Linked DNA regions of Homo sapiens. The protein of the gene in region 1 purifies or fractionates together with the protein of each later gene. This does not show direct contact. Each region holds a gene or a part of one and is shown in the gene's direction. Other genes may lie near its edges.

What was found.
Region 2: the proteins of KMT5B (region 1) and RNH1 purify together in Homo sapiens (affinity purification with mass spectrometry, with the first as the bait; one large-scale study listed by BioGRID). This does not show direct contact.
Region 3: the proteins of KMT5B (region 1) and DCAF8 purify together in Homo sapiens (affinity purification with mass spectrometry, with the first as the bait; one large-scale study listed by BioGRID). This does not show direct contact.
Region 4: the proteins of KMT5B (region 1) and CAPN2 purify together in Homo sapiens (affinity purification with mass spectrometry, with the first as the bait; one large-scale study listed by BioGRID). This does not show direct contact.
Region 5: the proteins of KMT5B (region 1) and MOB1A purify together in Homo sapiens (affinity purification with mass spectrometry; one large-scale study listed by BioGRID and IntAct). This does not show direct contact.

Annotation. Positions count from the first base shown.
Region 1 is NC_000011.10:68,171,797-68,178,058, reverse strand, and holds part of KMT5B (histone-lysine N-methyltransferase KMT5B), read left to right. Parts: intron 1-2,875; coding exon 2,876-3,041; intron 3,042-4,145; coding exon 4,146-4,255; intron 4,256-6,262. UniProt on the Homo sapiens protein: Histone methyltransferase that specifically methylates monomethylated 'Lys-20' (H4K20me1) and dimethylated 'Lys-20' (H4K20me2) of histone H4 to produce respectively dimethylated 'Lys-20' (H4K20me2) and trimethylated 'Lys-20' (H4K20me3) and thus regulates transcription and maintenance of genome integrity.
Region 2 is NC_000011.10:499,637-504,256, reverse strand, and holds part of RNH1 (ribonuclease inhibitor), read left to right. Parts: intron 1-2,007; 5' UTR 2,008-2,094; coding exon 2,095-2,195; intron 2,196-3,602; coding exon 3,603-3,773; intron 3,774-4,257; coding exon 4,258-4,428; intron 4,429-4,620. UniProt on the Homo sapiens protein: Ribonuclease inhibitor which inhibits RNASE1, RNASE2 and angiogenin (ANG). May play a role in redox homeostasis. Required to inhibit the cytotoxic tRNA ribonuclease activity of ANG in the cytoplasm in absence of stress.
Region 3 is NC_000001.11:160,226,960-160,233,221, reverse strand, and holds part of DCAF8 (DDB1- and CUL4-associated factor 8), read left to right. Parts: intron 1-1,814; coding exon 1,815-1,925; intron 1,926-6,262. UniProt on the Homo sapiens protein: May function as a substrate receptor for CUL4-DDB1 E3 ubiquitin-protein ligase complex.
Region 4 is NC_000001.11:223,742,336-223,748,597, forward strand, and holds part of CAPN2 (calpain-2 catalytic subunit), read left to right. Parts: intron 1-1,764; coding exon 1,765-1,883; intron 1,884-2,970; coding exon 2,971-3,104; intron 3,105-4,661; coding exon 4,662-4,830; intron 4,831-6,262. UniProt on the Homo sapiens protein: Calcium-regulated non-lysosomal thiol-protease which catalyzes limited proteolysis of substrates involved in cytoskeletal remodeling and signal transduction. Proteolytically cleaves MYOC at 'Arg-226'.
Region 5 is NC_000002.12:74,171,101-74,177,362, reverse strand, and holds part of MOB1A (MOB kinase activator 1A), read left to right. Parts: intron 1-4,610; coding exon 4,611-4,777; intron 4,778-6,262. UniProt on the Homo sapiens protein: Activator of LATS1/2 in the Hippo signaling pathway which plays a pivotal role in organ size control and tumor suppression by restricting proliferation and promoting apoptosis.

The DNA of each region.
Region 1 (6,262 bases):
GGTTATCTGTTTCCCACCATTTCATATTTCATATTTCATATTGCTCGACAGGTCATGCCTTAGCTGAGAGCTGCTTTGTTGTCTTATCTGTCCTTCATGTGCAAATAACCATGTAGTGTAGGATTGCAGCAAGAATGGTTTCCATTGGATTTCTTGGAGATGGTATCTTGACACAATCAATTGTGATGGCTACAAGTAGTTGAGTATGGATATTTGGATGCTTTCCCAATTCTACAGCTCTTTATTTTCATGGTGGTTCTCTGACACCATATGTCGACAGACTAGTAAGACGTTCTGAATTGTTTAAAGGACTTGCATTTATCTGTCTGTAAAGGCTTGTATACCAATTGATTGAAAATGGAAAATAGGGCCCTGTTCATTTCTTCAGTATTATCTCTAGGATATGTTTGAACTTTCAGATGGTTCAGCTAATAGTTGTGAGAATTCAGGATTACTGAATTAAAAAAAAAATGACTAGAGTGTGTAGCTAGTAAGTTCCTGGTAGTATCAGTATGCATTAATACACCTGAAGTCTTCCAGTGATCCTGTCCAGTAAACAGTATTATACCTGTTCAGGACCTCATGTCTTTCCTCTTCCTGATTCTGGTACTTTACTTTATTATTGCTACCTAGCTGACCCTGGTCAACTCTTTGAATCCAGCTTGATTAAGATCTTCTGCTTAGACTTCCCCTCATTCTTCCTTCCTTTTGATTCTTACCTGCTTATAATGTGCTTTTCTTAAACCTTTCCCATGTACATTTTGCACCCTAGTTATAATTTCTATACTTTTAGGTGCTATAGCAATGCAGTTTTTAGCATATTAACATGCATTTGCATATTGATCACTTGCTTAACTGTTTGATGCATATATATGTCTTTTAGTCCCAATTAAATTTTCCATTCAAGAACAGTGGCCATGTCTTCTCTTGTATTTTTCACCATAGCACTTCATATGCCACTGTATACACAACACAGCACCTAATAATCCTTGATGAAATACTGTGGCTTGAAATCTTACTGAAATACTATGAATACATATATGATAGCTTCTCTAGGAAAAAAAATTCTGCTGAATGCTTCCTTTGCTGGAGTTTGTGCTAGATCTTACCTCAATTTTAGCATATTCAGGTTTATGAAATGTACAATTTTAAATGTCAGAGTAAGACACATAAAGATTTTTTTCTCCTGAACCACTAATATTTTTTCTTAATGTATTTTATTTGAATGGCAATCGGTGATTCCTTTTTTCTGTTGGACGTTTTGTTTTGTTTTTTTGATACAGAGTCTTGCTCTGTCACCAGGCTGAAGTGCAGTGACGCGATCTTGGCTCACTCCAACTTCAACTCTCGAGTTCAAGCAATTCCCCTGCCTCAGCCTCCTGAGTACCTAGGACTACAGGCGTGTACCACTACGTGGGCCTGGCTAATTTTTTGCATTTTAGAGACGGGGTTTCACCAGGTTGGCCAGGATGGTCTCGATCTCCTGACCTCGTGATCCATCCGCCTCGACCTCCCAAAGTGCTGGGATTATAGGTGAGAGCCACCATACCGGGCCATAATCCGGTTAGAATTAGCTTTATGAAAATAAAATAAAACTTTTTTTTAAAATAAAAACTTTATTTGGGAGAATTAGCTTTATGAAATTGACATGAAAAGAAAATTTGAAATTAAGATGCTAGTAACTTTATAGTACACGTTTTACTGAAAACACAGCTTTAGAATGAGGGGTTCACAAATTTGTCTTGCTTGGGCCATGACTGCATCATGCATAAATACAGACCTAATGGGATAATATTCTGAAGACATCAGTGTGGCTGATTCTACAATGGAAGCCTTTTCAATTCTACCCCTGCAGGCCAGGCGCAGTGGCTCACACCTATAATCCCAGCACTTTGGGAGGCCAAGGTGGGCAGACCACTTGAGGTTAGGAGTTCAAGACCAGCCTGGCCAACATGGTCTCTACTAAAAATACAAAAATTAGCTGGGCATGGTGGCGCACGCCTGTCATCCCAGCTACATGGGAGGCTGAGGCAAGAGAATCACTTGAACCCGGGAGGCAGAGGTTGCAGTGAGCCAAGATCACACCACTGCACTCCAGCCTGGGCCACAGAGTGAGACTCCATCTCAAAAAAAAAAAAAAAAAACAACTCTACCCCATCAGTTTTCCTACATTACCAGTATAGCAATTTCACCACTAGAGTTAACACTGCTTGTACTCGTTTTGTTCTCTGAATGCAGTCATCAAAGATGACTTTGACATGGGTGGTTAGAACATCAAGGTGTGTTTCGAAGCCTGTTGGAATACTTAGTTTGGGGTTTTTTCTGACTGTGTACATAAAGAATGTTTTTGTGTATGGCATGGTTTTGTTTACATCATCATACTTCTGAAATTCATTGCCTGGCACTCTTCCAGCTTGATTTTGCATGTTTTAAAAAGATTCTTGTCATTCTAACTCTAAATTAGGTGTGCTGTATTCTAGAGCTTTGATTTTGTGTCTCCCAAAGTTGACGACTAGTGTAAGTCTGAATCAGACAGCTTTTGTTTGAATCGTCTGCTCACCTCACAGTTAATGAGATAACAGTGAAATAAAAATAATTAAAATAACAGATTGAAAAAAGAGAAGTTACTGAGATAACAGTGAAATAAAAATATTAAAATAACAGATTGAAAAAAGAGAACTTGCGTATCCAGGTGATCAGTATTACTTGAATAGTAGTAATCAAGACTATTGATTGTTGTTCTCTTCTCTTAGATCTTTGCTCTGATAACCATGGCTGTTTTTAGGGTATTAGCTCTTTCTCAAGATCTGTTAAGATGGATCAGTGGCGCAAGGATTGTGGCAGATAACCCATTCATTCTTTTGATTTCTTTCAGATTTAGGCCTATTAAAGGAAGGCAGGAAGAACTAAAGGAAGTAATTGAACGTTTTAAGAAAGATGAACACTTGGAGAAAGCCTTCAAATGTTTGACTTCAGGCGAATGGGCACGGCACTATTTTCTCAACAAGAATAAAATGCAGGAGAAATTATTCAAAGAACATGTAAGTTTATTAAGACTGATGCTGTTAACCTATTTGGATAAGAATAGTGAAGTAAATTAAAACCCTAAATGTTAGTTAATACTGAAATTTTAAATTTATTTTTCATAAAACTAATCAGTCTGAAGATCTTGTAACACATACAGTCATTTGGATGACAGTCCAGAGAAAAAACTGGGCCAGGCTCAGTGGCTCATGCTTGTAATCCCAGCACTTTGTGGGGGCTAAGATGGGAGTATTGCTTGAGGCCAGGACTTCGAGACCAGCCTGGGCAACATAGCAAGACTCCATCTCTAAAAAAATAAGAATAAAAAAATTAGCTAGGCATAGTAGTGTGTACCTTTGTAGTTTGTAGTTCCGGCTACTCAGGAAGCAGAGCCAGAAGCATTGCTTGTGCCCAAGAGTTAGAGGCTGCTCTGAGCTATGATCATGCCACTGCGCTCCAGCCCTGGGAGACAGAGCAAGACCCTGTCTCTAAAACCAAAAAAGGAGAGAAAACTTTGTCATATAGAGGTGAAATTCATTATGAGCCTTAAGGGAAACAAGCCATTAGGTACTCATACAGAGTGAGTACCCTTAACCCCAAAATTTGAAATGCTCCAAAATCTGAAACTTTTTGAACACCGACCTGACACTCAAAGGAAATGCTCATGGGAGGATTTTGAATTTTTTGTTTAGAGGTGTTCAGCTAGTTACTGTAATGCAAATATTGCAAAATGAGAAAAATTGTGACATTCAAAACTCTTGAGTAACAATAAAGTTTGTTACCTAATGATCTTACTTTTTTTGTTTATTTTATTGTTTTTTTAGAGGCAGAATCTTGCTCTGTCACCCAGGCTGGAGTGCAGTGGCCTGATTATGGCTCACTGCAGCTTCCATCTCTTGGGCTCAAGTGATTCTTCCTCTCAGCCTCCCACGTAGCTGGCACTAAAGGTACATGCCATCATGCTTGGCTAATGTTTTTCGTAGAGACAGGGTCTCGCTATGTTGCTCAGGCTAGATCTTACATTTTTTTCATCATTGCGGGTGGTTTGCTTTTATAATTGTAAGAAAGTCTAGCAGGGTATACCATTTAAAGTCATTATCAATTTTTTTTTCCTGTTTTAGGTATTTATTTATTTGCGAATGTTTGCAACTGACAGTGGATTTGAAATATTGCCATGTAATAGATACTCATCAGAACAAAATGGAGCCAAAATAGTTGCAACAAAAGAGTGGTAACTATTCTACTAGTATAAGCCTTTAATTTAATTTAAAGTTCTCTTCTAAATTATTGTTGAAGTGCTGAGAAATTCATGGTAAGGAATGAAGCCAGAGTTTACCCTGAAGTAGCCAATGCATCGCCGTTGCCTTGGCCCATCAGCTGGAGTCAGAGTGGGGAAATCGGAAGTCTCAGTTGAACCAGATCCCATCTCTAGGCCAAATTGCTTTTCATTTTCCTTTATTGACTCTGGATGCCTGTTCAGTGATATGATTGCTGAAGAGTTGTGGATACCGTGATTAGATAACCTGGCTTCCACAGTCAGTCTTCTACTGGCCTAGAAGAAAGGTTGGGGCTAAAGTTTTAATGATCCTAGTTTTATGGGTGGAAACCTCCCTAAAGCATTAGTTGCTTAAAAATACATACATACAGATATATATATATGTATATATGCCAGCTTCAATAAAAATAGTAGAGTTGGTGGGGGGCATTGGCTCACGCCTATAATCCCAGCACTTTGGGAGGCCGAGGCAGGCAGATCACTTGAGGTCAGGAGTTCAAGACCAGCCTGGCCAACATGGTGAAACCCCATCTCTACTAAAAATACAAAAATTAGCTGGGCGTGGTAGCACACACCTGTAGTCCTAGCTACTCGGGTGGCTGAGGCAGGAGAATCACTTGAACCCAGGAGACAGAGGCTATAGTGAGCTGAGATCGCGCCACTGCACTCCAGCCTGGGCAATAGAGTGAGACTCTATCTCAAAATTAAGTCAGAGTTGAGCCCAGCTAAAAGGGATAAAAGTTACAGATGAAAGAGAATATACTACTGTATCTTCTTTCCTATCATGCCTGTTCCCTATGTTATCTCCCAGGAAAAACATGTAGCTCCTCATGTACCCACCCTCTGATATTTCTACCACAAAAATTTGGGGGGTCAGATATCTGAAAATGGATAGGTAAAAGAACTTTATTGCCAGGCCTCTGGGGTGAGTGTGTGTACATGAAATGTGCTTCATTTACCTCAGGATGTATTGAGCCTGCTAGTTGGATTATGTGGCTCCCTGTGTTGCAGATGGGTGTGTAGGTTTGAGATCTAGAGTCCTAGAGCTGTACCGTCCGGTACAGTAGCCACCAGCCCTTGAGTCCTTGAAATGTAGCTAGTCTGAATTGAGAAGCGCTGTAAGTGTGCTATACACACCAGATTTCATATTAAATTTTATTCCCATTCATAGTTCTTATATTACCTACTGAAATCGTATTTTGGATATTGGGTTAAAATATATTGTTGGCTGGGCATGGTGGCTCATCTGTAATCCCAGCACTTTGGGAGGCTGAGGTGGGCGGATCATGACGTCAAGAAATCGAGACCATCCTGGCCAACACGGTGAAACTCCATCTCTAGTAAAAATACAAAAAAAAAAAATGAGCTAGGTGTGGTGGCACACACCTGTAGTCCCAGCTACTTAGGCTGAGGCAGGAGAATCACTTGAACTCAGGAGGCAGAGGTTGCAGTGAGCTGAGATCACGCCACTGCACTCCAGCCTGGGCAACAGAGCGAGATTCCGTCTCAAATAAAATAAAATAAAATAAATTGTTAAAGTAATTTCACCTATATTCACTTAACTTTCTCAATGTGGCTGCTAAAAAATTTAAGATTGAAAATTTGGCTTGCATTATATTCCTAGCAGATGGTGTGCTCTAAAGAGTGGCACCATGATTCCGGATCCTCATAACCCTTACTGCCACTGGTCCCTGCCTGCTTCATCCAGCAGTCAGAAAGTTTAATTCATTGCCGCAAGTATTTGAGTACTTTCTGCTTGCAAAACACCACACCAGGGCATTCAGAGACATAGGTGGCATAGTCCCTGTCCTGGTTGAGTTTCCATTCTCTTGCAGGAATAAGATAGGTACACAAGTAACCATGGCACAAGGCTGTGGAGCTCCAGGGTAGGAGAGAAGATAGCCAGGTGGGGATCCCAGTGAGCTAACTAAAGTATAGACAGCTAGGCCTTTTCAGTTTCTG
Region 2 (4,620 bases), about 68 Mb from region 1:
CTTTTGCGCGTCGCCTGAGCGTGGCCCGTGTCTCCCTAGAGGGTGGCCCCGCGCCCCCGTCACGTCGGAACATAAGGACCTGAATTGGCCTCCAGACGGCCCCTCCCATGTGGCTCCCCAGGGTGGGGCCCAGGCCTTGGGTGCTGCGGAGACCTCCCTCCGTAAGGTTGAGAAAGTCTGGTCTCCGGATAAGGGACCGTTAGGGCCTCTGTTCAGATCCCTGCCTCAACCAAAGCAGGCTGCCAGCTGGTGGTAGTGGGTTCCTGAATGTGCTTTTAGCTTTGGCTGTGTAGGGAGCCAGGGACTTCTCCAGTCACAGAGAAGGGCGTTTACTCCCGCATTTTCATGGGGTCCTCAGTGGGATCCGTGACCCACAGAGATTCAGAAGGGCCTTTCTGGGATACAACAGGGTCTGGCCAAGCCTGAGGGGTAGGGACGGGGCTACTCCCGCAGCGCTAGTTGCAGATGGTCACGGGAGCACTGGCCACCCTGAGCTCCCACCAAGCTTTCCCAGGAGGAGGACACCCTGGGGCCACCTTTCATCTGGCTGCAGAGGACACAGGAGTGTCAGGCTGGATTTGGGGAGCGTGTGCACCCTGGGCAGCCCCCTGAGGCTCTCCTTCCACCCGCCCTCCCGCCCACAGTGCCTCCTGATGACTAGATTCTGGAGTCAGAATTTGGGTGACCACACCCTGGTCGGTTTTGCTCACGTGCTTCGGGTCGGTTGGATTCAGTTCCTCCATGTGGGGCCGTGGGATGTCACCACCCTTTGCCACTGTCCTTGCAGGCCGGGCGCCCAGGCGTGTGGACCCGAGCCCAGCCTTGCGTCTTTCCTCCCAGTTGGTACCAGGGGCCTCTTGCCTCCACTCATGCAGAGTGGACCAGCCGCCTCTGAAGCAGCCCCGGGGAGAGGAGTGCCAGGCACACAGACTCAGGAAGCTGGGGGTGTCAGGGCACCAGGAGCCTCTCAAGCGGTCCTGTTGGCCGTCTTTCTGAAGGGCAGCTGGGGTTGCATCATTTCCCCAAGTGGATCCTGCCAACTTTCTGGGGCTTCTGGATGAGAGCCCTCTCCCCACCCCACCCACCCCTCCCCGCATTGTGGCATCAGTGCTGCTGCTTCCAGGGAGCCTTCCTGGCCATCCAAGCCTCCTCTCCAGGTTCCTGCCCTGCTGTAGTCCCCAGGCCAGTGCTTGGCAGGTGCTCAGGGAATGTATCCACCAACCAAGGTTTGGGGTGGCTGTCTCTGCCTGACCACTTTCCCCAGGCCCCTGGCGGGTACCTGAGCTGTGCTCTCAGGGCCTCAGGAACCTCCTTCCATATTCAGGGCCTGTGCCTGGGGAGGCTTCAGGGTGTAGCAGCTGTGCCCATCCCAGGCTGACCCACCCAGCTTGCCTGGTAGCCCAGCCTCTGGGCTAGTGTGCCGTGGGGCAGGGGATGTGCTGTAGCCTGGTGCAGAGTCCCCAACCCCAGAAGGGGGCCATGGAAGCTGACACCCCAAGTGGCCGCCCCCCTGCTCTGTCTTGCTTCGGACACTGTGGCCGGGTCCAGGATCCTGGCATCCTGGGAGGTCTCTGGCTTTGTGGGCAGCCTGCCTGGCCCGCACAGTCTGCCTGTCCTGAGGGTGAGACACAGGTCAAGCCCACAGACCCCCTTGCTCCCCTGCTGGGGCCTCCAGGCTCACAGACCACCCCACCCTACCCTGTCCTTGCCCAAGCAAATGAGAGGCAGGGGCTTCCCGGGCTGCTGCTGTCCCGCCCTCTGTGGGGCAGGAGGAGGTGCCCACAGAGGCTGGGTGGTGATAGCCAGGAGATGGGCTGGCATCTGCATTACCCAAGCTCTGCTGCCCATGGTGGCCTTTCTGGGGGTGGGTGCTGGTCCCTGCCCCCTGCCCCACCCCTGATGTCTGCTCCAGAGACAAAGGTGGGGAGGGTGCTGAAGAGGAAGTGTTTGCCCAGGGAGAGGCTGCGGCTCCTCCTGAAACATCAGCCCTGTGGGTCCTGTTTGCAGAATCTCCGGCCTGTGAAACTGTGAGGGGATTCGGCCAAGACGTCCTCTTCCCTCTGCCTCCCACCCAGGCCACTCTTCACCTCCACCATGAGCCTGGACATCCAGAGCCTGGACATCCAGTGTGAGGAGCTGAGCGACGCTAGATGGGCCGAGCTCCTCCCTCTGCTCCAGCAGTGCCAAGTGGTCAGGTACGCTTGCTCTCGGGGTGGCCTTGGGGTGCTGGTGGGGCAGGCTGGCGGGTGGCGGCTCCCTCTGAAGGGTGCATTGCTCTGGAACGCCTTGTTTGTGGACATGAAGTATGAATTCTGTGCAGCTACCACGTGCATGAGATGTGATTCTTGTGTTTCTTTTTGACAATTTAGGAATGTAAAACCCATTCCAGGCTCATGCAGCATGGGCTGAGGTGGGCGGGCCGAGGTGGGCGGCCACTGGCCAGTGGGTCTCTGGCTCCGGTGTCTCAGCTCCTCTCCCTCCCTTGGAGACACGAGGGCAGGACACAGCTTGGGTCCCCTCCGTGAGCCTCCATGGGGCGCTGCTTGTCCCTGCCAAGCTGGGGGCTGGGAGTCCTCGGCCCTCGAGGTCCTCACAAACCCAGCAGCTTCACAAGCAGGACACGAGTGCCTGGGTGGGCCGCATCTTTTCTCTTTTTACCTGGTGATTTCAAGTAGTGTCAGGTTTGCGGAGGAGTTACGAGGACCGGACGGGGCTCCCTGGTGAGGTGGTCCTGTGTACCTGCGGACGCTAGCTCTGGCCCAGCACCTCCAGGCAGGGTCTGCTTTTCCGCCCTGCCCTTTTCGTCTTCCTCACTGGTCCAGGATTGCGTGGCCCTCAGCCCTCTGTCTCCTTAGCCCTCTCCCGTCTGTGACTGTCCCCTCGTCTCTCTGGGTTCTTGGTGGTCTGAGGGTCTGGCCAGGCTCCTGCAGGACGTCCTCTGTTGGGGCTTGTCTGGTGGTTTCTTGTGGTTGAAGTCCTACAGTTTTGGCAGGAATGCAGGGAGATGCCGTGGGGCCTGCCAGGAGCGTCCTGTCACAGGCGCCGTCTGCCACCCTCTCCACTGTGACGCCACTGCCTTTCCTCCTGTGACTGATCAGTGCCTTCGAGAGATACTTTAAATTCTTTTTATTTTTAGAGACAGGGCATTGCTCTGTCACCCAGGCTGGAGTGGCTCCCTCATGGCTTATGCGGCCTCAACCTCCTGGGCTCAAGTGATCCTCCTGCCTCAGCCTCCCGAGTAGCTGGGATTATGGGCATGCGCCACCACGCCCGGCTACTTTTGTATTTTTAGTAAAGACGGGGTTTCTCCATGTTGGTCAGGTTGGTCTTGAACTCCCGACCTCAGGTGATCTGCCTGCCTCGGCCTCCCAAAGTGCTGGGATTACAGGCGTGAGCCACCGCGCCTGGCCACGTGCGAGCATCTTAAACAAAACTTTCATGGAACAGTTCCTCCTTTTTGTTTCATTTCTGAAATGTCTTGTGTGACTTGCCTTGCTGTCTTCTGGGCCCACTGATAGGTTGTAACCTGCACGTGGGGTGGTGGTGGAGGCTGAGGCCAGTGCTGTCTGCGTGGTCCACATGACCCTGGGGTCTGCTCACAGGCTGGACGACTGTGGCCTCACGGAAGCACGGTGCAAGGACATCAGCTCTGCACTTCGAGTCAACCCTGCACTGGCAGAGCTCAACCTGCGCAGCAACGAGCTGGGCGATGTCGGCGTGCATTGCGTGCTCCAGGGCCTGCAGACCCCCTCCTGCAAGATCCAGAAGCTGAGGTGAGGCGGGGCCTGGCACTGCCTCTGGCCTGGTGCAGTCTGCTTTGGTAGCCCGGCAGCAGGGGACAGAGCCGCCAGGGGCGCGTGGGCAGCTGCAGGTGGACAGGCAGTGGCAGCAGACATTTCCAACATCAGCCAGAGGCACACAGGCCTGGCGGTCTCACAGCGGGGGGGACAGGGCCCTTCCTGCCTTATCCCAGCCCCCGCACCCAAGATCTGGCCCTGCCCGCCATCCCTAGCCTTCCAGCATCACCACAGACCCCCACTGAAAGGTGTGTCTGCAGACAAGGTTTCCCTGGGTCGAGCCACATGCGTGCCCTCCTTCACTCGGCCTGGAGACCCCAGACCCCAGAGCCCCGTCCAGGGAAGGAGCAGGTATAGACCTGCCGCCTGAAGAGTGCTGCTCCGGGCTCTGGGCTCTGGCAGGCGAAGGGCGTGGCAGCTTGGCTCAGGGGAGCCCTGCTGACAGCCAGGTATGCTCCAGCCTCCAGAACTGCTGCCTGACGGGGGCCGGCTGCGGGGTCCTGTCCAGCACACTACGCACCCTGCCCACCCTGCAGGAGCTGCACCTCAGCGACAACCTCTTGGGGGATGCGGGCCTGCAGCTGCTCTGCGAAGGACTCCTGGACCCCCAGTGCCGCCTGGAAAAGCTGCAGTGAGTTTGTGTCCTGCCCCAGGGCCCATGCTGGCCGCTGCCTGTCCCCCAGCCAGCCCCCTACATAGAACATCGCCTGCCAGGAGCCGTGAGGAGGGGACTCAGGTCACAGGGGCCTTGTGGTGCTCTCCTTTCCCCATGATGCTGGGTCTGGGGCCTTGTGGTGCTCTCCTCTCCCCATGATGCTGGGGC
Region 3 (6,262 bases), on another chromosome or scaffold:
CTCAACACTTTGCCTAGAACAGTTCTAGGCTGAAGTGACTTTGGCTATGCAGAAAGGATGCTAAAATCATTTCTTTACAAAGAAACTTGTTGTCATGGTTATATTTCTTTCTGTTTCCATAGCATCAGAAATAAATAAAACCTTAGACTTAAAAACAAAAACTAAAGCCAAGCCTCTTCCTATAGTTTCTTGAAGTCTTTCCTTTGCTGTAAATTTACCAATCTTCATTATGTCATATTTGACTAATTGAATGCTTAGATCTGAGAAGAATATTCCTCATGCCACCCTTAACCTGGAACAAATTATGGCTGTTTTAGACAGATTATTCTGGATTTCTTCAGTGAAAAATTTATCAGTTTTCAGTGTGCATATTTTAAGCTGGGTTTTTTATTTTTTTACTTTTTGAGACAGGGTCTCACTCTGTCACCTAAGCAGAAGTACAGTGGCAAGACCACGGCTCACTGCAGCCTCAACTTTCTGGACTCAAGGAATCCTCACACCTCAGCCTCCTGAGCAGCTGGGACTATAGGTGCATGCCACCACACTGGCTAATTTTTTATAACAATTTTTTTTTTTTTTTTGAGACAGAGTCTCCCTCTGCCACCCAGGCTGGAGTGCAGTGGCACGATCTTGGTCCACTGGAACCTCTGCCTTCTGGATTCAAGCAGTTCTTCTGCCTCAGCCTCCCAAGTAGCTGGGATTACAGGTGCATACCAGCACGCCCGGCTAATTTTTTTATTTTTGGTAGAGACGGGGTTTCACCGTGTTGTCCAGGCTGATCTTGAACTCCTGACCTCATGATCCACCCACCTCGGCTTCCCAAAGTGCTGGGATTACAGGCGTGAGCCACCGCACCCGGCTTTTTATAATAATTTTTTATAGAGATGGGGTCTTGCTATGTTGCCCAGGGTGATCTTGAGCTCCTAGCCTCAAGTGTTCCTCCCAAAGTGCTGGGATTATAGGCATGAGCCAGTGCCTGGCTTAAGTTGGGTTTTAAGTGACTTTTTTTTTTTTGAGACAGTCTTGCTCTGTTGCGCAGGCTGGAGTACCGTGGCATGATCTCTGCTCACTGCAGCCTCTACCTACCAGGCTCAAGTGATTCTCTTCCCTCAGCCTCCTTAGTAGCTGGGATTGTCCTGAGTAGCTGGGATGATAGGCATGCGCCACCACGCCTGGCTAATTTTTGTATTTTCAGTAGAGATGGGGTCTCGCCATGTTGGCCAGGCTGGTCTCAAATTCCTGGCCTCAAGTGACCCACCCGCCTCAGTCTCCCAAAGTGTAGGGATTACAGGCATGAGCCACCATACCTGGCCATAAGTTACATTTTAATGGAATCTGAGCAATAGTCTCTGACCTTAAGGTCTTTTTTAGCCTACTGTTTCTGGGATTCTTCTTCCACGTCTCTCCTTGTTCCCAGGTGATAGGGAAGATATATTTATAAATAAAGGGTAGGAAGGTATCTGTAGTATTGTCTGATTAATAACTGGCTGTTACTGTGTTGGACTGCAGCTAAACTGAGGCTTCCTAAAGAATGGTACATTCATATACCTTTAGTTTATACTTCTTAAGGAACACTAGAAAGTGACTTCACTACATATTTTTTTCCCCAATCCCCAAAGTCCCATATAATAAATGTATGTGCTTTTTTCCTGTTGTTACGTACAAAACAAACAGAGAAAACACAACAATTCTTTCTTTCCAAATGAGAATCTCTTTGGTTTCTTATTAGCCATGTGACTCTCTTGGCTCTCCTTTGCCATGACCATTTGGATCTTTTGGAGTATATAACTTTCTGTGCTTTTCTACTCTTAAAGGAAACTGGTGGTGACAAAAGAGAAAGAGAAGAAAGTGGGGCTGTATACGATCTATGTGAATCCTGCCAATACCCACCAGTTTGCAGTGGGTGGACGAGATCAGTTTGTAAGGTGAGTTTGTGGCTCTTTTGTGTCTTTGACAGTTTGTAAGACTGATGCATTGTATACTACCAGGTGCTCCTTTATGGAGAGTTACGAATTTTATAGGAATCCATTAACTATTATCTTGAATTTTTTACCGTTTTCCAAAAATCTTACACGCCTTTGGAGATGTTCTGTTCTCTAATGTAACAGTCTCTGAGGGGTGACTTTACATATTTTAGAGATTATCAAGTTTTAAAGAAGTTAGATGATGGTCAGGTGTAGTGGCTCACACCTGTAATCTCGACACTTTGGGAGGTGAGGCGGGTGGATCACCTAAGGACAGGAGTTTGGGACCAGCCTGGCCAACATGGCAAAACTCTGTCTCTAAAAAAAAAAATACAAAAATTAGCCAGGCATGGTGGTACATGCGTGTAGTCCCAGCTGCTCAAGAGGCTGAGGCAGGAGGATCACTTGAGCTCAGGAGTCAGAGGTTGCAATGAGCCAAGATTGTGCCACTGCACTCCAGCCTGAATGACAGAGCGAGACTCTGTCTCAAAAAAGAAAAGAAAAGAAGTTAGATGAATTGACCAAGGTCCTCACGTGGCAGCTAAGCCATAAATTTAGGTTTACCAGCAAGTACTATATTAGTAAATAATCTACCTTTTTCGTATGTAAATAAACGTGCACTAGAAATTTTAAATACTGGTTTTCAATTCAGAAATAGTTTGACTTGGGAGCACTTAGTGTGAACTGAGGGTTTTTTGGCTCTCACTGTCCTGAGCTACCACTTTTTTTTATCCATAGTGATATCTTTGTTACCGTGAACACCTTTTGTTAACACTGGCTCTTGAGACATGACCTAAGGAAAACAGACACTGTGGATTCAGTCTCCATATGTATTAGTTAATTTCCTCTGACCCTTAGTAATAAGCTGTATCCATCCCTATCCAGTTGGCCTATTTTAACTATGTTTCTTTGGGCTCATCAGTTTGAAAGGAGAGAGAGGGGCAAGATCACTAGAAAAATGAGTGACTTTTTGCTTTCCTAATGGTAAGTGAAAAGCATCATCTTCCTTTTGAAATGAGAGCACATTTTATAGCTATATTTCCAGATTCATTTTATTAATAAGAATCATGGGGAATAGGGTAAATTTTTAGAAAATACATGAGATGACTTTGCCTTGTTCAAGAATCCTGGACAAAACCTTGTTTCTCTCTTCTTCCCCTATTCCCATGCCTTCAAAATTCGTTTCCTCTAGTCACCAACAGTCCTTAAATGTGTAGCCATAGATTTTTTTTTTTAGACAGAGTTTTACTCTTATTACCCATGCTGGAGTGCAGTGACACAATCTTGGCTCACTGCAACCTCCGCTTCCCGGGTTCAAGCGATTCTCCTGCCTCAGCCTCCCGAGTAGCTGGGATTACAGGTGCACGCCACCACGCCTGGCTAATTTTTTGTATTTTCAGTAGAACCGAGGTCTCACCGTGTTAGCCAGGCTAGTCTCGAACTCCTGACCTCAGGTGATCTGCCCGCCTTGGCCTCCCAAAGTGCTGGGATTGCAGGCATGAGCCACTGTGCCTGGCCAATTTTTTTTATTTTTAAATAAGAAGCTGTTGATCAAAAAGGGTTGTAGTTTGTATAGATTTTCAGTTGCTACCTCCTCCAAGTTGAGCATTCACTGAAATTTTGAGTTGAGAGTTCCTACTTAGAGCTCCAGATTACTTGAAAAGTCTGTGTCTCTAACAAATTCCACCACTAGGACCAAGATGTTTGGAGGGGAATGTAGTAGTTTGCTGTATTGAGAACTGTATTCATATGTATGTATGTATTCATATGTATTCATATGATATGTATATCATATTGCCTTAACCCAAAGCTGATACTTTCCCAGGGTTAGAGTAAGGCTTAGAGTTTTAGCATTTCAACACAAGGAGAAATACTCAAATCTTCTGTGTCTTATCAGCCTCAATATTCCTCTATTGGCTATTTACTGGGCAGAAGTTATGTGAAGATTTTTGTTTTTTTTTTGAGACAGAGTCTCACTTTGTTGCCCAGGCTGGAGTGTAGTGGCTCGATCTCGGCTCACTGCAACCTCTGCCTCCTGGGTTCAAGTGATTCTCATGCCTCAGCCTCCCAAGTAGCTGGGATTACAGGCATGTGCCACTTTGCCTGGCTATTTTTGTATTTTTAGTAGAGATACGGTTTTGCCATGTTGGCCAGGCTGGTCTCGAACTGTCTTCAAGTGATCCACCCACCTCGGCCTCTCAAAGTGCTGGGATTACAGTCGTGAGCCACCGCGCCTGGCTATGTGAAGATTTTGAGGCACGCTGATCCTACACAAGCAGGTAGCCCTTTCAGCACTCCAGCTCTTCTCTGACATTAGGTTACACTCAACTTCTCTGGCACCTCTCCTGTGCAGCCAACTGAATGTTTTGAGGTTTCTCCTTTCTTATTCTTCCTTTGAAAGAACCCAAACAGCTCATCTTCTGGTATAAATTTGAAAACATTTTTGCTGAATATTATATATCATAACATCATTAACTTTCACTCCTAGCCTAAAGGAATTACTTCAAGGGAATATAGAGAAATAGCTTACTGATCCTCAAGGCTTTTGCATCATTAATACTGAATTTTAGTTTAGGGTTATTAAAAAGTATTTAAGGGAAGCTCTGGGGAGACATGCTTTTTGGCCTGTGGCCAAAAAAAAAAAAAAGGTAAGTAGAGGAGGTATAGGTGTGAGTCCCTACTACACCTGCTAAGCTAAGCTAATTCCTGCTTAGCTTAGTTTTAAGAATTTATAGGGGTAAAGAAAAAGAGAATATATCAGGTGAATCCTTTAGTGGTAAATTTGGCTGACATGAAAATTTATTGCTAAAGGATTAAGTATAGGCCCTGATTGATGAAGCACAGTCAGTAAATCATCTCTTCATTCCCCAGTTCTTAAGCCAACATCAGCAACACTGAGAGAACATTAGATTAAAGGCAGGTATAGAAGAGAGACTTAGGGTAACAAGTTAGTGGGTGCCTGAAGGCATGTGGGAAGAGATGTGGTAAAGGTGTGCACACTATTCCTTACGTGACTTAAAATGTCAAGGGGCTTGGTGTGGTGGCTCATGACTATAAAACTAGAGCACTTTGGAAGGCCAAAGCTGGAGGATAGCTTGAGGTCAGAAGTTCAAGGCCAACTTGGGCAATATAGCAAGACTGTGTCTCTACCAAAAAAAAAAAAAATTAAGAAAAAATTTTAATTTTTTAATTAATTAAATATCTCCAGGTGTGGTGGTATGCTCCTGTAGTCCCAACTACTTGGGAGGCAGAGGAGGATCTCTTGAGCCCAGGAGTTTGAGGCTACAGTGAGCTGTGATTACACCACTGCACTCCATCCTGGATGACAGAGTGAGACCCTGTCTCAAAAAAAATAACTAAAAGTAAAATATAAACTATCAAGGGCCTATCATATGTTCAGAAAGTGGTAGGAAAGTTTGTATTAATCTTTCTATGCTTACTGTCTATCACAGGGCTTGACAAACTGTAGTGCTTGTTTTTATAAATAAAGTTTTATTGGAACACAGCCATGGCCTTACTTTACATGTTGTTTATGACCACTTTCATGCTACAATGGCAGAATTCAATAGTTTTAATAGAGATTAGATGGTTTGCCAGTTTACCAGCTTAAAACATTTACTGTCTTGTCCTTTAAGAAAAAGTTTGCCAAACTCCGTTCTAGCATCATATGTAGAATATAGTAAGCTATTAATAAACACTTAGTTGGGGTGTAGTGGCTTATACCTGTAATCCCAGCACTTTGGGAGGCTGAGGCAGGAGAATCTTTTGAGGCCAGGAGTTTGAGACCAAGCTGGGCAGATGCTGTCTCCACCAAAAAATAAAAATATTAGCTCAGCATGGTGGTGTGTGCCTGTAGTCCCAGCTACGCGGCAGGTTGAGGCGGGAGGATCGTGTGAGCTGGGGATGTCAAGGCTTAAGTCATCAGTAACCTAACTGCCAAAGCAAACAAAGTACTTTTCAAGTCTTTTTCTCTACTCTTGACATTATTACTCCTTCCCTGAAGCACCTTCTCTCCTTGATGTCCAACCACTCCTCAGTGTTGTTCATGGGTGTGTCTTCCTTTCTCCACCCATTAAATGCTGATGTTCTCCAGTAGCTCAGTCTTCAGCTCTCATCTTACTCTATACCAGGGAATTTTAACTTGAAGTACAAATATTATGTGAACCTCCAGAAAGTATGCTTATGTGCATTTTTCTGGGGAGAAGGGACTAGAGTTTTCATTATATTCTGAAACAGGCCAGAGATTCTAAAGGGCGAAGGGAAAATCTTCTCTGTATTTTCCCTTGGAGATCTAATTC
Region 4 (6,262 bases), on another chromosome or scaffold:
GAGCCAAGATGACACCATTGCACTCCAGCCTGGGTGACAAGAGCGAGACTGTCTCAAAAAACAAAACAAAACCAAAGAATTCAGTGAACTTCAATAACATATATATATGTTACTGATATATATAACAATATTACATATATTACATATTTTATATATATGTGTGTATATATATATATATATATATTTTTTTTTTTTTTTTTGAGACAGGGTCTTGCTCTTCTGTCACCCAGGCTGAGTGCAGTGGCATGATCACATCTCACTGCAGCCTCCACCTCCTGAGCTCAAATAGTCCTCCCACCTCAGCCTCCCAAGTAGCTGGGACTACAGGTGTCTACCACCACACCTGGCAAATTTTTGTATTTTTTTGTCGAGACAAAGTTTTACCATGTTGCCGAGGCCAGTGTCGAGCTCCTGTGCTCAAACAACCCACTGACCTTGGCCTCCCAAAGTGTTGGGATTACAGGCGTGAGCCGCTGCGCCTAGTCTTCAGTAACATTTTTAATAAACCTGTCAATTGGCGAAAATAAATCCAACAGTGAATTAAACTCCTTTGAGGCTACTTCCCATTATTGTCATGGGAAATTGTAGGAAAGTGCACATTCCTTAAGAATGGAGTAAACTTCCTCATCCTCTTCCCAGGCCCCCTCCCCTTTGTTTGTGTTTTGTGGTGAAGATGACCCCTCCCTGCAAACCATCTGGGTGCTGTTGCTGGCATCAGCTTGCTTCTAACTGCATGAAATGATTGTGGTGCCTGCTGTGCTGAGAACCTAGCACTGGCACCAAATGGGTGCCGAGTGCTTACACACCTGCTCTCATTATGCCTCACACTTATCCATGTCATGGGGGAGGGTTCTGAGGCTCAGAGAGGGACCAGGCTGCCTGGCCAGCTGCCCACCTCGTTGTGCCCATCCTTGTCTACCCCTTGAAGTGACCTCTGCCCCTCCGCACAGAAACCCTTCGGGACAGTCCAGCCTTCTGCCTCTGACTCAGGGCTTTTCCATCTGCACTGCTCCGTACTTACTTCCTGCGACTGTACTCCCTGCCAGAGCCTCTTTTCCTGGCTCTGACCTTCCTCCTAGGAGGCGTGCAACGTTTGTCCCCTTCCCATCTAGCACTACGTTTTCTTTCTCTCACTCAAACTCCCCTTTATATATTTGTTTGTTTATTTATTTAGAGATGAGGGTCTCCCTCTGTTGCCCAGGCTGGAGTGCAGTGGTGCAATCATGGCTCACTGCAGCCTTGAAATCCTGGGCTCAAGGGATCCTCCTGCCGCAGCCTCCCAAGTATTCGTATTATAGCTGGGACTCCAGGTGTACGCCACCACACCCAGCCCAAACTCCCATTCAAAGCCTGTGTGCTCAGAAGCCTCTGCAGCTGCGCTGGTTTCATTCTCTCACTGTGGAGCATCTGCTGCGAATCAGGTGCAAGGCTGGGCTCTGAGGGCACAGTTCAGCCACCAGAGTTCTGGGTCTTTCAGGGAATGAAATTTCCCATCTCTGCCCAACCACAACACAGCAAAAACATTTCTCCCTTTGCATTTCCCTCAAAATACTAGGTTGGTGCAAAAATCACAATTACTTTTACACCAACCTAATAGCCCCCAAACCCTCTGACCCAACCCTCATATGGGGGACTGCCTGAAACTTCACTCTGTCTATTCACAGGTTGTCTTAGGCTTTAAGCCCCTGGAGGTGGAGACAAGATTTTTAACATCCTCCTGGTTCTAAGACCCTCTGATAAGAGCTCCTTGTGCTGTGTTCACAGGTGACTGCTGGCTGCTGGCAGCCATTGCCTCCCTCACCTTGAATGAAGAAATCCTGGCTCGAGTCGTCCCCCTAAACCAGAGCTTCCAGGAAAACTATGCAGGGATCTTTCACTTCCAGGTAACTTAATGGTTGGCTCAGGTGGTTCCTCAACAGGTCCAGGGGGCTAGGAACAGTCTTCTGGCTTGGCTGGGTTCATCAGTCCCTGGTGTTTGCAGACTCCCAAGACCAATACTGTTCTACAAAGGACATTGGGCGAGAGCAGGAAGCTTCCTGGCTTACCCGTGGCCAGGATGTGAGACCCGGCTGGGATGGCCCTGGGTGGTTTCTTGGGACATGTAAAAGGGAGGTAGAGCAAGGTGTTCAGGAACTAATTCCCAAGTTTAAAAAAAAAAACTGTATTATTTGATGTTTGAGACAAAAACGTTGAAGTTCTCCTCCTTTTATGCCGGTAAATGAGAAATAATACTTGAAAAAGCTGGCTGGGCACGGTAGCTCATGCCCGTAATCTCAGCACTTTGGGAGGCCGAGGTGGGCAGATCATTTGAGGTCAGGAGTTCGAGACCAGCCTGGCCAACATGATGAAACCCCATCTCTACTAAAAGTACAAAAATCAGTTGGGCGTAGTAGTGCAGGCCTGTAATCCCAGCTACTTGGGAGGCTGAGGCAGGAGAATCACTTTAACCTGGGAGGCAGAGGTTGGGAGGCCAAGGTGGGTGGATCACTTGAGCCCAGGAGTTCGAGACCAGCTGGGGCAACATGCTGAAACTCCGTCTCTACTAAAAACACAAAAAAAATTAGCCGGGTGTGGTGGCACGTGCCCTTAATCCCAGCTACTCGGGAGGCTGAGGCAAGAGAATCACTTGCATCCAGGAGGCAGAGGTTGCAGTGAGCCGAGATCGTGCCACTGCACTCCAGCCTGGGCAGAGCAAGACTTGGTCTCAAAAAAAAAAAAAAACAGCCTAAGGTACAGGGCAGAATGCTAAAGAGGCGGGTGTGGATTTGAAAGGATGGACATGCGCCTCTGTCTTCGCTTTTTTAGTGAGGACTTGGCCTGCATAGGAGAGTTAAGGGAGCACCTCCTCCCAGGATGCGCTCATGGAACCTATCCCAGGGGATCAGGGCAAGGGGAGCCAGAGGCAGCTGAGGCTCAGAGTCCCAGTGCTGCCACCAGCTCCTCCTGCAGCCCACCTCTCTTGTTCTGCAGTTCTGGCAATACGGCGAGTGGGTGGAGGTGGTGGTGGATGACAGGCTGCCCACCAAGGACGGGGAGCTGCTCTTTGTGCATTCAGCCGAAGGGAGCGAGTTCTGGAGCGCCCTGCTGGAGAAGGCATACGCCAAGTAAGTTGCCATCCTCCCCTGGCCCCATGGCCTTCCCCCAATGCCCTGGATTCCAAAAAATTCACTCATGCCTGTAATCTCAGCACTTTGGGAGGCCGAGGTGGGTGGATCATTTGAGGTCAGGAGTTCGAGACCAGCCTGGCCAACATGATGAAACCCCGTCTCTACTAAAAATATAAAAATCAGTAGAACTACTCCAGGACTACTTTGAGTGGGAAGTCCTTTTCTATAGAAGGACTTCTTTGGCCAAAATTAGGCTCTAAATGCAAGGAGATAGTGCATGCAGGGTGCCTGGCTGCACTGTACGCTGATAAATGATGTCTATCACCATCTTTAACCAAATGCACAGGAACAAGTTATGGTACTGATTGTGCTGGACTTGAGAAGGAGCTCTACTTCCTTGACAGGACACATTTGTATCAACTTAAAAAAGCAGAATTTTTGCCAATGGGCAGAACTATTCATTGCAGAGGTAGGAAACTTGCCCAGAATAGATGATGTCACTGATTAGCAATGGCTTCCCCATCTCCGCACAGCTGCTTCCCACCCAGGTTGCCCACAGTTGAGTTTGTCCAGTGCTCAGGGCTGCCCACTCTCAGTAAGAAGCCCCACACCAGCCCCTCTCCACAATGGCCCCATGTTGGCTGTGCCGCCCGGCTCCTTCCATTAAAGTGACCCCACTTTAGAGCAGCAAGTGGATTTCTGTTTCTTACAGTCCCAATCCAGGAAGGAGGAGTCAGCTGTGAGAACCTGGAGCCTGACGGATGCTTCTAAGTCCCACTGCTCAATACTGGGGTCAGGGAAGCCACCGGACTCCAGCATCAGCAGTCAGGAGCACTAAGCCCTTGCCAACACCGTGCCTGTTTCTCAGAGAAACTGCTTCCATTATTGAATGGTTGTCCTTTTTTAAGCTATCAATGCCAAACGACCCATTAGTAGACCTCCCCTTTCTTGTCAGGATGTAGAAGGAATCAATACAGGAGGTTCATCCAGAAAATCACTAAGGTCCTTCCGACTCTAAGGTTCTACGAGAATCTTTTTTTTTTTTTTTTTTTTTAATACGGAGCCTCATTCTGTCACCCAGGCTGGAGTGAGCGGCATGATCTCAGCTCACTGCAATTTCCACGTTCTGAGTTTCAGCAATTCTTTTGCCTCAGCCTCCCAAGTAGCTGGGACTACAGGCATGCACCACCATGCCCAGCTAATTTTTTTGTATTTTTAGTAGAGATGGTGTTTTGCCATGTTGGCCAGGCTGGTCTTGAACTCCTGACCTCAAGTGATCCGCCCACCTCGGCCTCCCAGAGTGCTGGGATTACAGGCATGAGCTACCGCGCCCGGCCTGAGATTTTCTTTAAAACACAAAATACCAGGGAAATGGTAACTGTGGACATTATACCTTGCCTTCCTGAGCACCCCGAGCTGGGAACAAGGCCAAGGAGAATGTGAGCAGGGGGTCCCTGGAGCATCAAATCTAGACGGTACTAGGGGGTGGCTGTTTGAGAGATTATAGCATCAGTAGTGTCAAGGGTAGCGGCAGCGTCTAATCCCCTCTTGTAGGATCAACGGATGCTATGAAGCGCTATCAGGGGGTGCCACCACTGAGGGCTTCGAAGACTTCACCGGAGGCATTGCTGAGTGGTATGAGTTGAAGAAGCCCCCTCCCAACCTGTTCAAGATCATCCAGAAAGCTCTGCAAAAAGGCTCTCTCCTTGGCTGCTCCATCGACGTAAGTCCAGGCTGCCTTCCCTAGCCTCACCCCATCTGCTCTTGCTGAAGGGAGGCTCCCACAGTGCCCAAGGGAACCCACTGCTCCTGTGTACAACGTAATGCAGCCCTCGTCCACGTAGGGGCCAAAGGAAAACCTCCCTCCACCCTCTGAAGGTCCGCTGAAAATCAACTGGCAAAAGGAAGACTAATACAAGAAATGGCATACAAATGTATGAATGTGGACAGGGGAGAATCACAAGAGATTTCCCTACCACGCATTGGGATACAGAGGGTTATATTCCCTTCCTCTTAGGGGAAGGGAGATGGGGAGGTGCGGATGATTTTAGGGATGTCGTAAATGATTTTTAGGGGAATTCATTGGGCTTAAAGAACATAAATGGTCTGGGATAAAGTCTGTTGGGCCTGCAGAGCAGACAGTGGTTTGTGACAAGTCTGTCTAGCCATGTTGACAGACTTGTCTTTCTTCCTGCAATATGAGTTCAGTTCATAATAACTCATGGAAAGGACCAGACGTCATTGTTTTCATCTTTGGCAGGTCCAGACTTTAGGCAGGTGAGGGAACTTCAGAGAATAGCTTCCTCCTGTGCTTTGGGGGAGAGTGGATCGAGAGACAGAAGGAAAGGGGAGGTCAGAGAGATCTTGAGGCTTCTTCAGTTTAGCATTTCAAAGTGCCATCTCTTAGAGGTATTGGTTTCTGAGCACCCCAGTGTCTACCATTATTGCTCATCACCTGGAAGCCAAGGGTTGCTAGGCAAAAGTCAAGCTGTCTGGGGTGTAATGGATGGGGTGATGGTGCCTCCAGCCCTTCTGTCTTCAGTCCACTTCCCACTCTTAGCCTGCTCTGAATCACCCCCACCCCTCTGACCACAGGTTCCCTGGGAGCCCCTGCCACCTGCTGCCCCTGCCACCTTCCCCTCCATCTGCAGTGCTGTGCAGCCTTCCCCTGCACTCTTGCAGAGCTAATAGGCCCGTGGGAGACTTCGGAAGGAAGAGGAGGAAAGATTTCCTCATAATAGCCTTGCTGGCAACGCTCACCAGGGGATGGGAGGTGGGCACTGTGCCCAGGAGCCTTGGAGCAAAGGCTGTGCCCAACCTCTGAGCCCTGTCCCATCCAGGTTCTGGTCTCTGCGGGGGACAGAGATAAGAAGCCCTGGCTTTTGGAGCCAAAATCTAGGTCAGACTCCCTAGGCAGGAATTCTCAAAGTTTATCAGCAGAACACGTTGAGGCAGAAGACCCTTTCTGCTCCAGCCCTTCTTCCCAGGCTCAACCTTCATCAGAATAGATAGGGGAAAGGAGAGGCTGTGAGGCGTTCTTAAAACAGAAGCAAATTCTGACTCAGACCGGAATAAACAACCGTCCTAGTATAAACCCTACAGCTGGGCTGGGCCAGACCACGGAGCATGGGCTGGTGGTGGGGCGAGGGTGTGCT
Region 5 (6,262 bases), on another chromosome or scaffold:
TTTATTTTTTGAGACGGAGTTTCGCTCTGTCCTCCAGGCTAGAGTGCAATGGCACGGTCTCGGCTCACTGCAACCTCTGCCTCCGGGGATGGCACGGTCTCGGCTCACTGCAACCTCTGCCTCCCGGGTTCAAGCGACTCTCCTGCCTCACACTCCCGAGTAGCTGGGATTACAGGCGCCGGCCACCACACCTGGCTCATTTTTGTATTTTTAGTGGAGACTGGGTTTCATCATGTTGGCCAGGCTGGTCTCGAACTCCTGACCTCAGATGATCCACTCCCGCACTCGGCCGAGACTTTCTTTTTTTAAAACTTGGCCTTCTTGATGGACACTTGAGTTGTTCCCGCTTTTTGGCCATTATGAATAATGCTGCTGTGAACATATGTGACAGGTTTTTGCGTGGATGTATGTGTTCATATCTCTTGGGTATATACTTAGGAGCAGAATTGCTGGCTTAAGTGGTAACTATGTTTAACCTTTTGAGGAACTGCCAAACTTCAAAGTGCTGCACCATTTTACATTCCCATAAGTACTCTATGAGGGGTCCAATTTCCCCACACCTCTCATAGCACTTGTTAATTTTCTTTTTTTTTTTTTTTGAGACAGAGTCTTGCTCTGTCGCCCAGGCTGGAGTGCAGTGGCTCAATCTCGGCTCACTGTAAGCTCCGCCTCCCGGGTTCACGCCATTCTCCTGCCTCAGTCTCCCAAGTAGCTGGGACTACAGGCGCCTGCCACCATGCCTGGCTAATATTTTGTGTTTTTAGTAGAGACGGGGTTTCACCGTGTTAGCCAAGATGGTCTCAATATCCTGACCTAGTGATCCGCCCACCTCGGCCTCCCAAAGTGCAGGGATTACACGCGTGAGCCACTGCGCCCGGCCTTGCCTGTTTTTAAATTGGGCTGTCTTTTTGAGTTGTAGGACTTCTTTATACATTCTAGATACAAGTCTTTATCACATCTATGATTTGCAAATATTTTCTTCCTTGTTCAATATAGTTTTTTTTATCATGTTAAAAACTTTTCAGATATGATTTTTAGTGTTTTCATCATTCTTTTTTACCTCCTTTTTTTTTTTTTTTTTTTTTTTGAGACAGGGTCTCACTCTGTTGCCTAGGCTGGAGTGCAGTGGTGCGATCTCAGCTCACTGCAACCTCTGCATCCCGGGTTCAAGCAATTCTCCTGCCTCAGCCTCCCAAGTAGCTGGGATTACAGGCACTTGCCACCACGCCCGGCTAGTTTGTGTGTGTGTGTGTGTGTGTGTGTGTGTGTGTGTGTGTGTAGTAGAGGCGGGGTTTCACTATGTTGGTCAGGGTGGTCTCAAACTCCTGACCTCAAGTGATCCACCCGCCTTGCCCTCCCAGAGTGCTGGGATTACAGGTGTGAGCCACTGCACCCGGCTCTTTTTTACTTCTTAATCAGTCTTATTTAAATTCCAAATTACTCAGGTAAAGTAAAAGTCCATAGTTCTATTCCATTCCTCTTCCTAGAAGTAATCACCAGTTTTGATGAGTTTAGTTTTTGATATTTTCTATGTATTTACAAAATGGGCTCCTGCTGTACGTTTGGTTGTGTATTATGTTTAACCATGTATTAGATCTTTCCCTGTGAATACGTGTACTCTGTCTGGTTTTCTTAACTTCTATACAATATTCCATGATATGGATGTACCATACTTTAATTCAATCCTCTACTGATAAACTTGAGGATTGCTTCTAGGTTTCTCCCTATTAAAAACAATCTTGGAAAAAAATTCTTATCCATATCTAGAGGAGATATTTAGAAGTAGAATGGATGGCTTGAGGAGCTTTTCAGTATTAATAGATACTACCATATTGCCCTCCCAAAATGTTACACTTTATACTTTCACCAGTAGTGTATTAAAATACTAGTTTCTCTGTACCCTAGTCCAGTGGTCCCTAACCTTTTTGGCACCAGGGACCAGTTTTGTGGAAGACAATTTTTCCACAGATCTGGTTGGGGAGATGGTTTCTGGATGATTCAAATGCATTACATTGATTGTGCACTTTATTTCTATTATGACATTGGAATATATAATGAAATAATTCTACCACTCATCATAATGTATAATCAGTGGGAGCTCTGAGCAACTAGACAATCCCATCTGGGGGTAATGGGAGAGAGTGACAGATCATCAGGCTTTAGATTCTCATAAGGCACATGCAATTTAGATCCCTTGCATGCACAGTTCACAGTAGTGTTCACGCTCCTGTGAGAACCTAATGCCTCTGCTGATATGACAAGAGGTGGAGCTCAGGTGGTAATGCCAGCAATGGGGAGCAGCTGTAAATACAGATGAAGCTTTGCTGCTTGCTCACTGCTCATCTCCTTCTGTGGGCTCCAGTCTGTGTCCTTGGGGTTGGGGGCCCCTACCCTAGTCCACATTTAATGTAATCATTTAAACTTTTGACATTCAGATTAGGGAAAAAATAAATCTTACTTTAATTGAACAGTTTTTCTCATGCTCATTGATTGTCATACTTCTGAATTGCCTATTCATCTCCTTAGCCTATTTTTCTAAAGGATTCCTTATATTCTTAACGAGTTACAGAAGCCCTCTATTATCCAGTTCATCCTTTGTAATATATGTTACAAGTACTTTTATTTGGTTACTTGTCTTTTTGCTCTGTTATGAAAGTTTTAATTGATACTATTTGAAATCTGTCCACTTTTTCTTTGAGGTTTCTGAGTTTTGTGCAGGAAGACTTTATGGATGGTGTGAGATAGGAATAAAAACATTTTTTCCTCAATAACGAGTTGTGCCTGTCTCATTTATTTTCCCTATTATAAACTTAAAGATGTTAGTGTTTCTTTTACTGTGGTTTGCTTTCAAGGCGTCTCAAATATTTTGATATAGAATACTGGATTTTTGAACTAAACCTCCCTGCGCCATTTTCTTTTTATCTTCCCCACCCCCCATTCCGCCTTACTATGTTGTCCTGGCTGGTCTCAAACTCCTGGGCTCAAGAAATCCTCCTGCCTTGGTCTCTCAAATGGCTGGGATTAGAGGTGTGAGCGACTGCACTTGGCTCCACCATTTTCTTTTTTCTTTTCTTTTCTTTTTTTTTTTTTTTTGAGACGGAGTCTCACTCTGTTGCCAAGCTGGAGTGCAGTGGTGCAAGCTTGGCTCACTGCAACCTCCGCCTCCTGGGTTCAAGCCATTCTCCTGCCTCAGCTTCCCGAGTAGCTGGGACTACAGGCGTGTGCCACCACGCCCAGCTAATTTTTGTACTTGTTTTTTAGTGGAGACGGGGTTTCACCATGTTGGGCAGGATAGTCTCAATCTCTTGACCTCGTGATCCACTGCCTCGGCCTCCCAAAGTGCTGGGATTACAGGTGTGAGCCACCGCACCTAGCCATGGCCCCATCATTTTCTTTTTTTTTTTTTTTTTTTTTGAGACGGAGTTTCGCTCTGTCGCCCAGGCTGGAGTGCAGTGGTGCGATCTCGACTCACTGCAAGCTCCGCCTCCCGGGTTCACCCCATTCTCCTGCCTCAGCCTCCCGTGTAGCTGGGACTACAGGCGCCCTCCACCACGCCCGGCTAATTTTTGTATTTTTAGTAGAGACGGGGTTTCACCGTGTTAGCCAGGATGGTCTCGATCTCCTGACCTCGTGATCCACCCGTCTCGGCCTCCCAAAGTGCTGGGATTACAGGCGTGAGCCACCGCGCCCGGCATGGCCCCATCATTTTCTATAGCACTTTGGGAGGCTGAGGCGGGTGTATCACTTGAGGTCAGGAGTTCGACACCAGCCTGGCAAACATGGCAAAATCCCATCTCTACTAAAAAAAAAAAAAATTAGCTGGGTGTGGTGGTGCATGCCTATAATCCCAGCTACTCGAGAGGCTGAGGCAGGAGAATCGCTTGAACCCAGGAGGTGGAGATTGCAGTGAGCCGAGATTGTGCCACTACATTCCAGCCTGGGTGACAGAGTAAGACTACATCTCAAAAAAAAAAAAAAAAAAAAAACCGAAATTGAGGCCAAAAGAAGGTTCAGTTTCTCAAGAAGACACAGTTAGTGTCAGATCAAGAACTAAAATCCAGGATGTTTCTCTGTACCAGACTTCTTCAGAGGGCATAGTAAAATTGCCTTATTTGTGGAATTGTGCTGCTAATCTTGCTTTTACAGGCAGGGGAAAAAAAGCATTCTTGTATTGTGATCATCATCTTCCTATCTTGGCATTTTTCAGAGAGTGTTTTTGTTTTTTTTGAGACTGAGTCTTGCTCTGTCACCTGGGCTGGAGTGCAGTGATGCGATTTCAGCTTACTGCAACCTCTGCCTCCCAGGTTCAAGCCATTCTTCTGCCTCAGCCTCCCAAGTAGCTGGGACTACAGGTGTGCGCCATCATGCTTGGCTAATTTTTGTATTTTTAGTAGACGTGTGGTTTCACCATGTTGGTCAGGCTGGTCTTGAACTCCTGACCTCAGGTGATCCCAAAGTGCTGGGATTACAGGCATGAGCCACCATGCCTGGCCCAGAGAGTATTTTTTATTTTATTTTTACAGGCTACTTTATATACCTAAAATTATGTTGTTCTACCTGTTCTACTTCCAGTCTTAAAAATTCATATACTTGCACTTTTAATCTTACAGCAGCAGCCGCTCTTCTAAAACATTCAAACCAAAGAAGAATATCCCTGAAGGATCTCATCAGTATGAACTCTTAAAACATGCAGAAGCAACTCTAGGAAGTGGGAATCTGAGACAAGCTGTTATGTTGCCTGAGGGAGAGGATCTCAATGAATGGATTGCTGTGAACAGTAAGTTTTAAAATGTAACTTTGCTGTTTTCTAGAAAGGTTTTGCTAAAATCTCTTTGTTAATGAATTTTCTTTTACAGTTAGAACTGTTTTAATATAACAAATTATCTGTAAAGAAACATTAAGTACAAATACATCCAAAGCTATGTTGCTCTTTTCAGAGTACTAGGTGGTAGTTTGTGAGGTTGAGTAGAGGGAGCTGAGGAGAAATGATGAGTGCTTTTGGGCAATTTCTAAGAAGAATAGTATGAAAAGCTGAGTAAGGTCAGATAAAAGATTGATAAATGAAAAGATTATGCCTGTTGTGGTCTGTGACTTTGTAGCAAATCCATCTACAGTTTTACTTCCACTCCCAGCAGTACTCATCAGCCTGCATATCCAGAAAAGTCAATTGCAGTTCATATGGACAGTTGATTGTTGTGACTTAGAGTGGCAGAGGGAATTGAGAGATTGGGAGAAAATGGAGGGATCTGAGCTGAAAGTCACTTTAAGTTCAAGAGAACAAGTGCATGACATGGGACAATATGCTAAGGCTAGAGATTTGAATGTGAGAGTCTCTCATTTCTGAGATGATATCATTTCTGGGTAATAAAGTTTAAATTAGAGATTTCAGATGTTCCAGGAATAAAAAGTTTAAATAAAAAGTTTAAAACTTTTTATTTATTTATTTATTTATTTATTTTTGAGATGGAGTCTTGCTCTGTTGCCCAGACTGGAGTGCAATGGCTCAATCTTGCTTCACTGCAACCTCCACCTCCCGGGTTCAAGCCATTCTCCTGTCTCAGTCTCCTGAGTAGCTGGGATTACAGGCACACGCCACCACACCCAGCTAATTTTTTACATTTTAGTAGAGACAAGGTTTCACCATGTTGCCCAGGCTGGTCTTGAACTCCTCAGCTCAGGCAATCTGCCTGCTTTGGCCTCCCAAAGTGCTAGGATTACAGGCATGAGCCACCACGCCCAGCCTAAAACTTCTTAATGGAAAATTTCAAACATATAAAAGTAGACTAAGTACAGTGAATTCCAGGTATTCATTCCATTACCCAGCTCCAACAAATATCAGTTTGTGACCAATTTTTCTTCTTCTATATGTCACCCTGATTATTTTAAGCAAATCCCAGACATGATGTTTTATCTATAAATATTTCAGTAAGGTATGTCTAAAAGACAAGAACTTGTAAAGATAATGACAATGCCATCCTCCTTTAACTTATCAAATATCTGGTCAGTGTTCACATTTTTCATGACTGTCCCATAAATGTTTCTTTTATTTTTTATTTTTTTTTTATTTTATTTTTTGAGATGGAGTCTTGCTCTGTCACCCAAGCTGGAGTGCAGTGGCGAAATCTTGGCTCACTGCAACCTCCACCTCCACCTCCCGGGTTTAAGCAATTCTCCTGCCTCAGCCTCCCCAGTAGCTGAGGGATTACAGGTGTCCGCCACCACGCCCGGCTAATTTTTGTATTTTTAGTAGAGAGGAGGTTTT